2 separate regions of the Homo sapiens genome follow, and region 2 is linked to region 1. Evidence: fine-mapped expression QTL. A gene starts in region 1. The other region holds a variant in brackets. All regions are shown on one strand. Distances are between the middles of the regions. Region 1 holds the start of MASP1 (MBL associated serine protease 1). Region 2 has its middle 24 kb from the start of RTP1.

Region 1 (5,358 bases):
TTCCCAAAAAGCAAGAGTCAGGAATGAGCTTTGGCTCCTAAACCGGACTTCCCTATAATAGCGACACCCAAATTATGCAAGGCCGAAAGGTCAACTTCCTCCATGACTGCTTTTTCCAGACCACATCGAGGAGACACTGAGCCTCCTGAGGCCGGTTCTGTCAAGGACTGGCAGCAGACAGCCCTGTGTAGCCCAGAAGCCCGGTGCCATGTGTGGTAGGCAACTGGTCAGCGTGGGAGGAAGGCCCAGGAAGCTTTCCCTTCTACTTTGTTTGCATCTCAAAACGGTTTCAAACATATGAAACAAATATCTCCCTTCATGTAATGGGCTTGAGCATATGCTTGCCTGCTTGCGTTAGGGGCTGTAAATTGAAGAATATAAGTGGCAGCTTTCATTCCTCGTCACACTCTCTGAATGTTTTTGGCTTCTTGTATACGAGGCACCGGCTGTATAGTTCCCAACACCTGCTATCTATCCTCCGGCTAATCAAAAAGTTTAGCTACATTGCAGAAATGTCAAAAGTAATATATAGAGCTGAGATTTCAGAGGCCCCCCGTAGGAACAGGCTAGCAGGACTCTGTAAAAATGCCTGCATATATCTATGATTGCGGCATGAACGGCACTTGCTATCTTTTCCATACACTGTCCGTACACGCCCCTTGTTTCAACCCACTCCACACCAAGACTCCATTTTTGAATTGAAGAGTTGGAAGGGACTGCATGGATCCTTTACAGAGCACCCTAATTTGACAGACGATGAAAAGGATACCCCAAGAGATGTCACATCATGCTCAATACCATATGGTGAATTAACTTCAACAGAAGAAGGGAATAAAAAGAGCTCACAGAAGAAGCTGGGTCCATGCCCATATCATGCCCAGGCATCTGGCCAAAGCAATTAATCCTGTGAAAAATAATTGAAAAACCCATGGCTTTACGTAAAAAATTTAAAAATATTAATGCCAAAGTCCCTCCTCAGGAGGTTCTGGTTTAATTGCTCTGGGGTGAGGCCTGAGCACTGGCATGTTTCAAGGCAGCACAGATCATTCCGACGTACAGTCAGAATTATGAGCCGTCAGTTTAGAATAATACACTTGGCTGAAAGTCTAGTGGAATATAGTAGAAAAAATCCTGAACTTGGAGCCCGAAGACCCAAATTTGAATCTGGACCTTTTCATGATCATCAGTGTGGTTTGGGCAAGTTGCTTAACTGCTTTTATACCCACTACTTATCCATAAATCCTTACTTCATCCAGAATCTGAAACCCCCATGAGACAGTGCTCTTGAAAGTGCTCTGCAAACACTGAAATACTGTATCCATGTGAGACAAGACCTGCTGGAGACTTTTCTAGCAGAGCACCTTTCTCGTAGTTGCTTGGCTATTCAAAAATTGAATTCAATTCAACAAATAGGTATTGAATGGCTGGTAGGAAATAGACATTATGCTAGGTGCTGGCCATACAAAGATGAAGACATAGATCATGTAACTTAAGGAGTGCTGAGACTTGTAAGGGGAGGTGGACATTTAAACAAGGGGATACTACAAGGACAATAAGAGATGCAGCTTCAAGGGACAGAAACAGAACAAAGGACAAAGGAGGGGATGCTCACTCTGGAATATGGTGGTCAGGAGAGAGAAAGAGATATTTGTGCCAGCTTGAACAATCAGGTCTTCTAGGTGGAAAATAAAGAAGAAGGTTGCTCCAGGTTGAGGGATGAGCATATGCAAAGATACAGAATTGTTACTCAGCCAAGTAGTTTGATATGGGCTGGGGCACTGAATGGTAGGGTGGGATTCAGACCAGATCATTGACAGATAAATGAGATTATCATTCAATGTAGATTGACATAAATCACTTTTTTTTGGAGAAAGAAAAATGATGTTTAATGGCAGGTTTAAAATTACTATGGCTTTAAGAAGAACAGAATTATTGCACTCACTTTTTAAGGACCTGGTTATCTCTCTGAACCACAGGTAATCGGAGTTCAAAGAGTTAACATAGTCTGAAGCCTCTCATTGGTCTCAGGTCCAGAAAAGTTGCTAGGTTACTTTGCAGAAGAGAAACAAATAAAAACACTTTCCCAAGTGAAAAGAAAATTAATAGTAAAAGATGTGTTTAGGGACTTACACATCTGCAGAGCATTGTGTGTGTGTGTGTGTGTGTGTGTGTGTGTAACAGCATTAACACTTAACTAATAAAAATAACTAGGGTGGTTGGGTTTTCAGACTTGCAGGATAGAACTTGTATGAAAGGTCTGGTAAGGAGTGTCAAGTATAATGAGGAATAAGAAAGGTTAAAGAGTTTAAAACCAATTAGAATTTGAAGTTCTTGATTTCAGAACTCTAAAATCCTTTTTTTTTTTTTAAGTATGATATCTCTTTAAGAGCCATTTGGTGTACTTCATAGCCTGATTCATGCCACCAGCTGCCTCTGATTTCAATGAGAAATGCAGAAAATTTATAGGGAACTGTAAAATGGGGACAGATTTTTAGTTTTCTAAATTGAGGTTTAACTGGCAAACTTGTAAAGGTTGAAGAAACCACAGAGCCAAGCTATGGGAAGCTGGTTTCTTTTCTGGTCAGAAGGAATGAACACACAAACACATATCTAACTCACAAAGTGCTGGAAGAGAGAAAGCAATGCTCTTTCCAGAGGAGGAACACGGAAAAATCAGCCTTGTGGGTGAACAGGAGGAGAGTCACATTCGCCAGCAGGCAGCACCCTGTGCAGGCAGTGGGAGAAATCTGAGCTTCAGCAGCGTCCGGAGCAGGATTTGCACGAAGTCTCCCGTTTCAAGTTTTATGTCTCCTGGAGTCCTGGGGAAGGCACCCAGCCCACCCACAGCTCCCTTCTCAGAGCCCTAAGAATTGATGAGAAAGCCCCTCACTACCACATGCAGGACACGCAGGTGAGTCTGTCAGTGACAAGGTCAGACCTTCCCTGCTATTTGACACTGGTCCCCAAAAGGGAACCGTGCCCTCTCCTCCCCTGGCACGTACCTCATTTTCCTGCCTTGGGTGCTCCCGGCTGCCCGGCCTTGGTCCTCCCAGCTTGACTTGCCTGTGAGCTCGTGCCCGGTGTGGTGTCCGTGATGCCTTATCTTTGTTCTGAGGTCCCTGTGTGTCTCTGGAATTGGCTGGCATTCTCCATTCAGGTCACGCCTTCCCCTGCCTGCAACAGATCCCCTCTCCCCCTCTCTCCCTCTGGCTTTTCCTCTCTCCTCTCTCTCTCCTTTGACTTGCTCTTGCACTCCCAGGAACCTGACAACAAAATCTGTCTTCCTACCGAAAAGATCTGCTCCTTCCCTTCCCTCCTTTATCCTGTGTGGCTGACTTCAGCCCTTGAGAGAAAATAACTGAGGGGCTCAAGCAGGTATTTGTATCACTCTGTGTGTGTGTGTGTGTGTGTGTGTGTGTGTGTAGAGAGAGAGAGAGAGAGAGAGTGAAAGGGGACAAAGTCTAATTTCTCTTTAGTCTTTTTTGCCAGATGACTATAATTTTCTGCTTTTCTTCAGGACACCCATGAAAGAAAAGCAATTAAATAGAAACAACCAACTAAGAAGGCAATTCTAGCACCTACACTAGAAGAAAAAAAAAAGGTCTAAATCCCAGAGCGTCTGTCTGCAAATAACTACAGGTTTCCTTGTGAGCAGAGCCCCAAATAACTACAGGTTTTCTCGTGATCAGAGTCACACACAACGACAGGTTTTCCTGTGAACAGAGCCACGGGCCCGGAACTGGGGAAGCACCAAGTCCTGAAGTTGGCTGGTTGTTCCTCCCCATGAGCAATACCTGTGGCACTGTTTACTTGCTCGGAGTGTGTGCGGCTCTACTCCAGCCCAGAAAGGGCCCATCGCAGCAAGAAATCTCACCTCCCCAGGGGTGTAGAAAGACCTGGGCCTGTATATATGTCTATACCCATGGCTTCCGGAGAAATCAACACTAGATCTAAGATGAGCTGAATAATAAGAAAATTACCCCCTCCACAACAACAACAACCAACACTGAATAGGGAGAGGTGTATCTGGGTGTAAAAGTTAAGTTTGACTGTGCACCTTTTCTGTGTTAGACACAGTACTAGTCATTAACATCATCTCAAGTTACTTTTGCAAACTGGTGAAAGTGCTGCTGTTATACTCATTTTACAAGTGAGGACACTAAGGCTCAGAGAGAATATGCCACTTGCCAAGATCATCCAGTTATTTATGACTCCCCACTGCCACTAGCACTAGAAGCTAACAGCTATTGAGTGCTACGTGTCAGGCACTGCTCTAAGCACTTAATATATGAATTCTTTTCAGTCATCTTTATATGTTGTATACATGGCTGGCAATATTCTCATTTTTCAGAGGAAATTGCCCAGAGAGGTTAAGTAACTTTCCCAAGTTCACACAGCTAGAAAGTAATAGAGGCAGAATTTGAAGTGTTAGCCACTGTATTACACTGCTACTCATTAACATTTTATAATGCATATGGAATTTCAAATGCACACACACAGACGGCATTCATAGAGAAACTCAATCTGAGTCATTTTGAAAAGAAGATTAGACTCAGAGTTTAGCTGTAATCTTTCCTTTCTACCCAAGACAGCTGTGTACTTTGGGCACAATACTTAAGGTATCTGATTCTGTGTCTTCATTTGGAAAATGGGAGTTACTATGAGGCTTAAATAAGACTGTGCTTGTAGAAGTGTCCAGGGGAGTACCAGAGAGAGGGCTGCCAGCCACACTCACCAAAGCGGCAGACACATGCACTGTCTACCCTCAGATAACGTTCCTTTGGCACGTTCTGGGGAACAGTGGCTTGACTCTCACTGTACTTCTTACTCCATTTTCTCTCCAGTTTCTCTAATTTTCACACTTTTGAATGCCAGCCTTGCCAAGCTTGGCATTATCAAGAGGCTGTGGTTGATAAAGCAGGTACAAGTATATGAGATGGGAGGATATGTTTGAACTCAGGCACTGTTTTAGCAAAATGTGTTCTGTCTCAGTCAGCACAGGAAAAAAAGCTTTTAACATTCCCGTTAAGAAGACTCACAGGCTCCGCACACATTAAATAACTCTCACAAAACAACATTTTAATGATTTACGTGTAAATGAATCAGAAACACATGGACGACATTTCTCTTGGAATACACAAGGGTTTTAAAACTGAAGGAGAAAGAGCTTGGCAAAATGCACACTGTGCTGGGAAGAGGGCCCCTGCCCAGTAAAGACATTCCCTCAATTCATGCTGCCACGGAGTTTGCCCTCTCCTAATTTAGGGCATATACTGGGAACTGCAGTCATTTGTTCTGGGTACAGAGGGAAGAGCTTGGGCGAGAAAGCCATCAGCTTCTCCTTGGAAAGTGTCACAG
Region 2 (5,384 bases), 120 kb before region 1:
TTTTATTTATTTACTTTTTGAGATAGAGTCTTGCTCTGTCACCCAGGCTGGAGTTCAGTGGCGCAATCTCAGCTCACTGCAACCCCCACCACCTGGGTTCAAGTAATTCTCATGCCTCAGCTTCGCGAGTAGCTGGGATTACCAGTGTGCTCCACCAGGCCCAGCTGATTTTTTTGTATTTTTAGTAGAGATGGGGTTTCACCACATTGGACAGGCTGGTCTCAAACTCCTGACCTCAAGTGATCTCCCTACTTGGCCTCCCAAAGTGCTGAGATTACAGGTGTGAACCACTGCGCCTCGGCCCCTTTTCTTTTATTAATTGTAATTCTTCTCTAAAGAATAGCTTCCCCTCAACTATTATTTGGTTATCACAAAATGCAGATTACATAAGGAAGCCAAGATAAATATGTAATATTTTTCCCTTGCCTATTTTTGAAATAAATAGTTGGTTTTTTTTATTTAAAATATCATTATTAATTTATGGATTTTTAGCATATTTGATGTACTTCAATGAATTGTGGCCATTATTCTTTTTGATGATCCAATTATTTTGTTTTTGGCCAGTGAAAGCTTCTTCAGGTTAGTTTCATTTGCCTTTTGTCTTTTGACATGACAATAGGAATTTTTGAAATCTGGTACAAGAAAATATTCCAGGCTCATTTTATACATTTATTGACTTATATCTGAAGGAATTATTTTTCCAGAAAGTTCTGATCACTTTTGGTGATCCAGGTGCTGAGAGGTACTTGTTGCTAATGGATTGATGATTTATTTCTTTCAGGTCTGTGTAATAGACAAAGTTAGGAAGTTCATAATTTTTATGGGCAATACAATTTCATTATGATATAATACTTATATTTCCAATTCAAATTCAGATAATAGGAATTTTTATTTACCATCTTAGATTTTATGTATTTCCAATCTCTTTTTGATTACCATAAAAATCTTGGTTCCCAGTAACATTAATAGAAGCACTAATACAATGTGTTACTTACCCTATTAAAATAAAAATAATAACACTGTAATTACTCCCCATCCCCACACTTCAGCCTCCATGAGATATATGGAAACAGTCAAATTATTATGTTTTAAAGTCATTTGAAATAATTCACCATTGAGTAAGCCACAGATTTCATAATGTTAGGTTAATTTTTTCCCCAAGTTTTCAGAATTTTTAAAAATTCAATTTTTTTGTTTTATAATTATGTAAAAAATAACATGGACCCAAAACAACACAACACAACAAAGCACATTTAGAAATATCTGTGTTCTACCTGTGTCTCCTCTACCCTGTTCCCTCCTCCCCAGTGAACAATAATATTCCTTAGTTTTTAACTTATCTTTCCATTTATTTTTAATATAGTCAAATATGTATCTTTCATCCTTCGAGGAAAGGTAGCAATCTTTATATACAGTTCTGCCCCTTGGTTTTTTCTTTTCCTTTTTTTGTTTTTTAGTTGAGAGGCTATCCTGGATATCACTCCATAATGGTTTATAGAGATTATCCTCATTCTTTTGTTTAGCTCCATAGTTCTTTACTGGGTGGTGTTTCATATTTTATTCCTCTTGTATCTTACCATAGGTAAGGTATGCCGTACAGTTTAGGTTGTTTCCAATTCCGACTGCTACAAACAACATAGTACTGAATAGCGATTTGTGTATATCATTTTCTGTTTTTGTCAACATATGTTAGGCATAAATTTCTAGACATAGGATTGCTGGGTCAAAGGGAAATGCATGTATTATTTTGTTAGATATTTTTGACTGTTTTAAAAATAGAACATATTATTATGTTGTATGCATCTTTGAAAGCTACTTTAAACTTTTTTATAAAAAGAACATTGGGGCATAAATTACTTTTAATATTTATTATAATAATAATATGAAGCACTAAGTAACATACATTTATAATTATATAAATATCTATCTTTTATAGGCATAAGACTCTGTTATAAAAATTAATATTCATCAGGGATTATCCACAAATTTCCCTTTTCCCCCCACTCCACCAAAGTGAATGCAATTGCTGGATGGACCTTTCCCCACTCTTCCACATGCTTTTCTCATCCCTCACTCCCTACATTTGTCATTGCTAGACCAGTCTCTACAGACTTTTGTAAGAATGGATCAAGAAGGATTTTATGGCAGGGAGAATGACCCAGGGAGAAAGTTGGAGGGATAGGAGGTGAGAAAAGTGGAGGCGAGGGAGGCTGAAGGTGAACAACATGGTGGAGAGGGGGAGGCAGCAAACGAAAGGTGCTGGGGGACACAGAAGGGAAGAAGTAGAGGGGAAGAGACATAGGAATATGAGAAGTGTTGCTACAACTTGTGAGTCTGATCCACTCTCATCTTCTTTTGGAAAAGCAAGTTAATAAAATTCTTCTATAATTGCTTTTCTGGCTCTTATACTGTGTATCTTGAACATGACACCACATAGAGACTGATCTATATGGACTGTGACTTCCATAGGGCATCAAGTCTTCATAATGAAAACACCTGAGAGTTTACAGATAATACAATACTGAGATTTAAGTTGGCTGTTGGTGTGAAATAAGTTATGTATGAATTAATATAAATGCTGTAGCCTGTGTACTAACTGAAGCCCACCCATATCCCTATAATGTAGGTATGCCTCTTTCTAATTATAAGCAGACCTACAAGGCAAGACTGAGTCACACCAGATGTCCACTTACATCTTAATGCTTGAGTCCAAGTCTTCTGGCATAAAATTATATAGATCACAGGCAAAATATCTAAAAAAGAAGAAAAAAACCCATAGCAACAGAAAGTAAAATCTGATTGTTAGCAAAGCCAATGCATTAGCTAAACAGAATAGTCCGGGGCATCAAAATGTTAGCAAGCATGGCTGCCCTCTAAGGAGAAACTGAGGTCAGGTTGCCCCAGATCAAAGCCCGAGGAGAAG[A/C]CAGATCCTGCCGTGCACAGAATTCATTCACTGGAAAGAAGCCTTCTGGGCCAAGTCCCTGATGGCGTTGAGAGCTGACTGGAAATGCATTCCCTGAGAGAAGGGTTTTGTAATCCTTGATTTAGTTTATTTCAGTCTGTGGAAAACCTTGTTGCTGAATTCAGGATTCTTTCTTCCAGAGAAGATTTGGGCTTGTGTTTGCAACAGCCTTGGACAGCTACAGACCTGCAATTCCTTTAATCCCTTTCCTTGTGTCAGGCATAATCCGGGAACCTGAGTTGATTCTGCTCTCCCTCTGCTCAAAGTCCAGCTCTGGATTGTTGTGTTGATATTAGCATTTGCCCTGAGGGCAGCTCCCTCTTTTCCTGCTCACTGCTGTGGTTTCACCTCAAGGTTTTAAGAGTAAATGTAAAATTTCCATATATTTATCTCCTTTATCCTCATAAGAACCCTGGGAGATAGCAATAATTACCTGCCTCCCTCCAGCAGCCAAAAGAGGGAATAAGGCGTTAGAGGATACCAACTCCTTGAAAGTTACAGGCCCAGTTAAGTGGTGGAGTCAGCTTTGTCTGCCTCACTCCAAAGTGAAAGTTTTTGTTTTTTTTTTTTGACAGAGTCTTGCTCTGTTGCCTTGGCTGGAGTGCAGTGGCGCGATCTTGGCTCACTGCAACCTCCACCTGCCGGGTTCAAGCCATTCTCCTGCCTCAGTTATGGCCTTCAAAAAGCCACTTTACTGTTTCTCCTCATTTCAGTCCAGACTCCGGGCTGCCAACCGTCTCTTTTTAAAACATGGGAATGTACCATCATTCTAACCATCCTTGATATTCCATCTCTACTTCCCACCGAAATGCGTAAAAGCACATTTTTTTTTTTTTTTAAGAGATGGAGTCTCGCTCTGTCACCCAGGCTGGAGTGCAGTGGCCTGATCTCGACTCACTGCAACCTCCACCTCCCGGGTTCTAGCAATTCTTCTGCCTCAGCCTCCCGAGTAGCTGGGATTACAGGTGCATGCCACCACGCCTGGCTAACTTTTTGTATTTTAGTAGAGACGGGGTTTCAGCATGTTGCCCAGGCTGGTCTCGAACTCCTGAGCTTAGGCAATCCACCTGCCTTGGCCTCCCAAAGTGCTAGGATTACAGGCATGAGCTACCACACCAGGCCGTAAAAACACATTTTGCCACAGCATTGAGAATTAAAGATGGCAACAGACCACTTGCCAATGTCTGGAAAAATTCTCACTAAGTGAGACATGGAGGAGCTTCGAATGACAAACTTTCGGGCGATAACACTCACTTTGACCTGTGAAACAAAATGGCAAGGCTGGTCATGACGATGTCAAATAGCAGATTTGACACTCCCCTCCCCCTATTCCTCTCTCTAGGCCATGCCATCCCCGGTTTCTAACTCGCCACAACCACTGAACAAAGCAGTTGTCTGGGGTGGGAGGAAAACAGCAGTAGGGTCTGTCAGTTTCCTCCCAGCATGAGATGTAAAAACAGCCTAGGCATGGCTGAGTGTGGTGGCTCACGCCTGTAATCCCAGCACTTTGGGAGGCCGAGGTGGGTGGATCACCTGAGGTCAGGAGTTCGAAACCAGCCTGACCAACATGGTGAAACCCTGTCTCTACTAAGAATACAAAAATCAGCTGAACATAGTTTTCACGCGCATCTGTGTGAAGAGACCACCAAACAGGCTTTGTATGAGCAACATGGCTGTTTATTTCACCTGGGTGCAGGCGGGCTGAGTCTGAAAAGAGAGTCAGCGAAGCGAGATAAGGGTGGGGCCGTTTTATAGGATTTGGGTAGGTAAAGGAAAATTACAGTCAAAGGGGGCTTGTTCTCTGGCGGGCAGGAGTGGGGGTCGCAAGGTGCTCAGTGGGGGGTGCTTTTTGAGCCAGGATGAGCCAGGAAAAGGACTTTCACAAGGTAATGTCATCACTTAAGGCAAGGACCGACCATTTACACTTCTTTTGTGGTGGAATGTCATCAGTTAAGGTGGGGCAGGGCATATTCACTTCTTTTGTGATTCTTCAGTTACTTCAGGCCATCTGGGCATATAAGTGCAAGTCACAGGGGATGCGATGGCTTGGCTTGGGCTCAGAGGCCTGACTGACATTCCTGCCTTCTTATATGAATAAGAAAAATAAAACAAAATAGTGTTGAAGTGTTGGGGCGGCGAAAATTTTTGGGGGGTGATATGGAGAGAGAATGGGCGATGTTTGTCAGGGCTGCTTCAAGCGGGATTAGGGGTGGCGTGGGAACCTAGAGTGGGAGAGATTAAGCTGAAGGGAGGTCTTGTGGTAAGGGGTGATATTGTGGGGATGTTAGAAGAAACATTTGTCGTATAGAATGATTGGTGATGGCCTGAATATGGTTTTGGATTAATTGAGAAACTAAATGGAATAACAGAAGGAGAAAAACAGGTATAAAAGGTCTAAGAATTGGGACGACTCAGGATATCT

The links. PIP is the estimated chance that this variant, and not a neighbour inherited with it, causes the effect. A credible set is the group of variants that fine-mapping cannot tell apart.
Region 2: its variant is the best candidate, but not a certain one, in a credible set for the expression of MASP1 in caudate (GTEx, PIP 0.88).

The regions. Positions count from the first base shown.
Region 1 is chr3:187,288,626-187,293,983 of GRCh38, forward strand. MASP1 (MBL associated serine protease 1) reads right to left here and starts at 3,112. Exons shown (of 11, transcript NM_139125.4): 1 at 3,003-3,112. The coding sequence starts at 3,007. LOC101929130 (a long non-coding RNA gene) reads left to right here and starts at 2,647. Exons shown (of 2, transcript NR_135551.1): 1 at 2,647-2,911.
Region 2 is chr3:187,170,923-187,176,306 of GRCh38, forward strand. No RefSeq gene overlaps it. Among named protein-coding and RNA genes, the nearest start is that of RTP1, 24 kb to the right of the region's middle. RefSeq lists enhancers at 1-422, 4,141-4,972, 4,973-5,384. The variant A/C (reference allele first, on the strand shown) is at 2,924.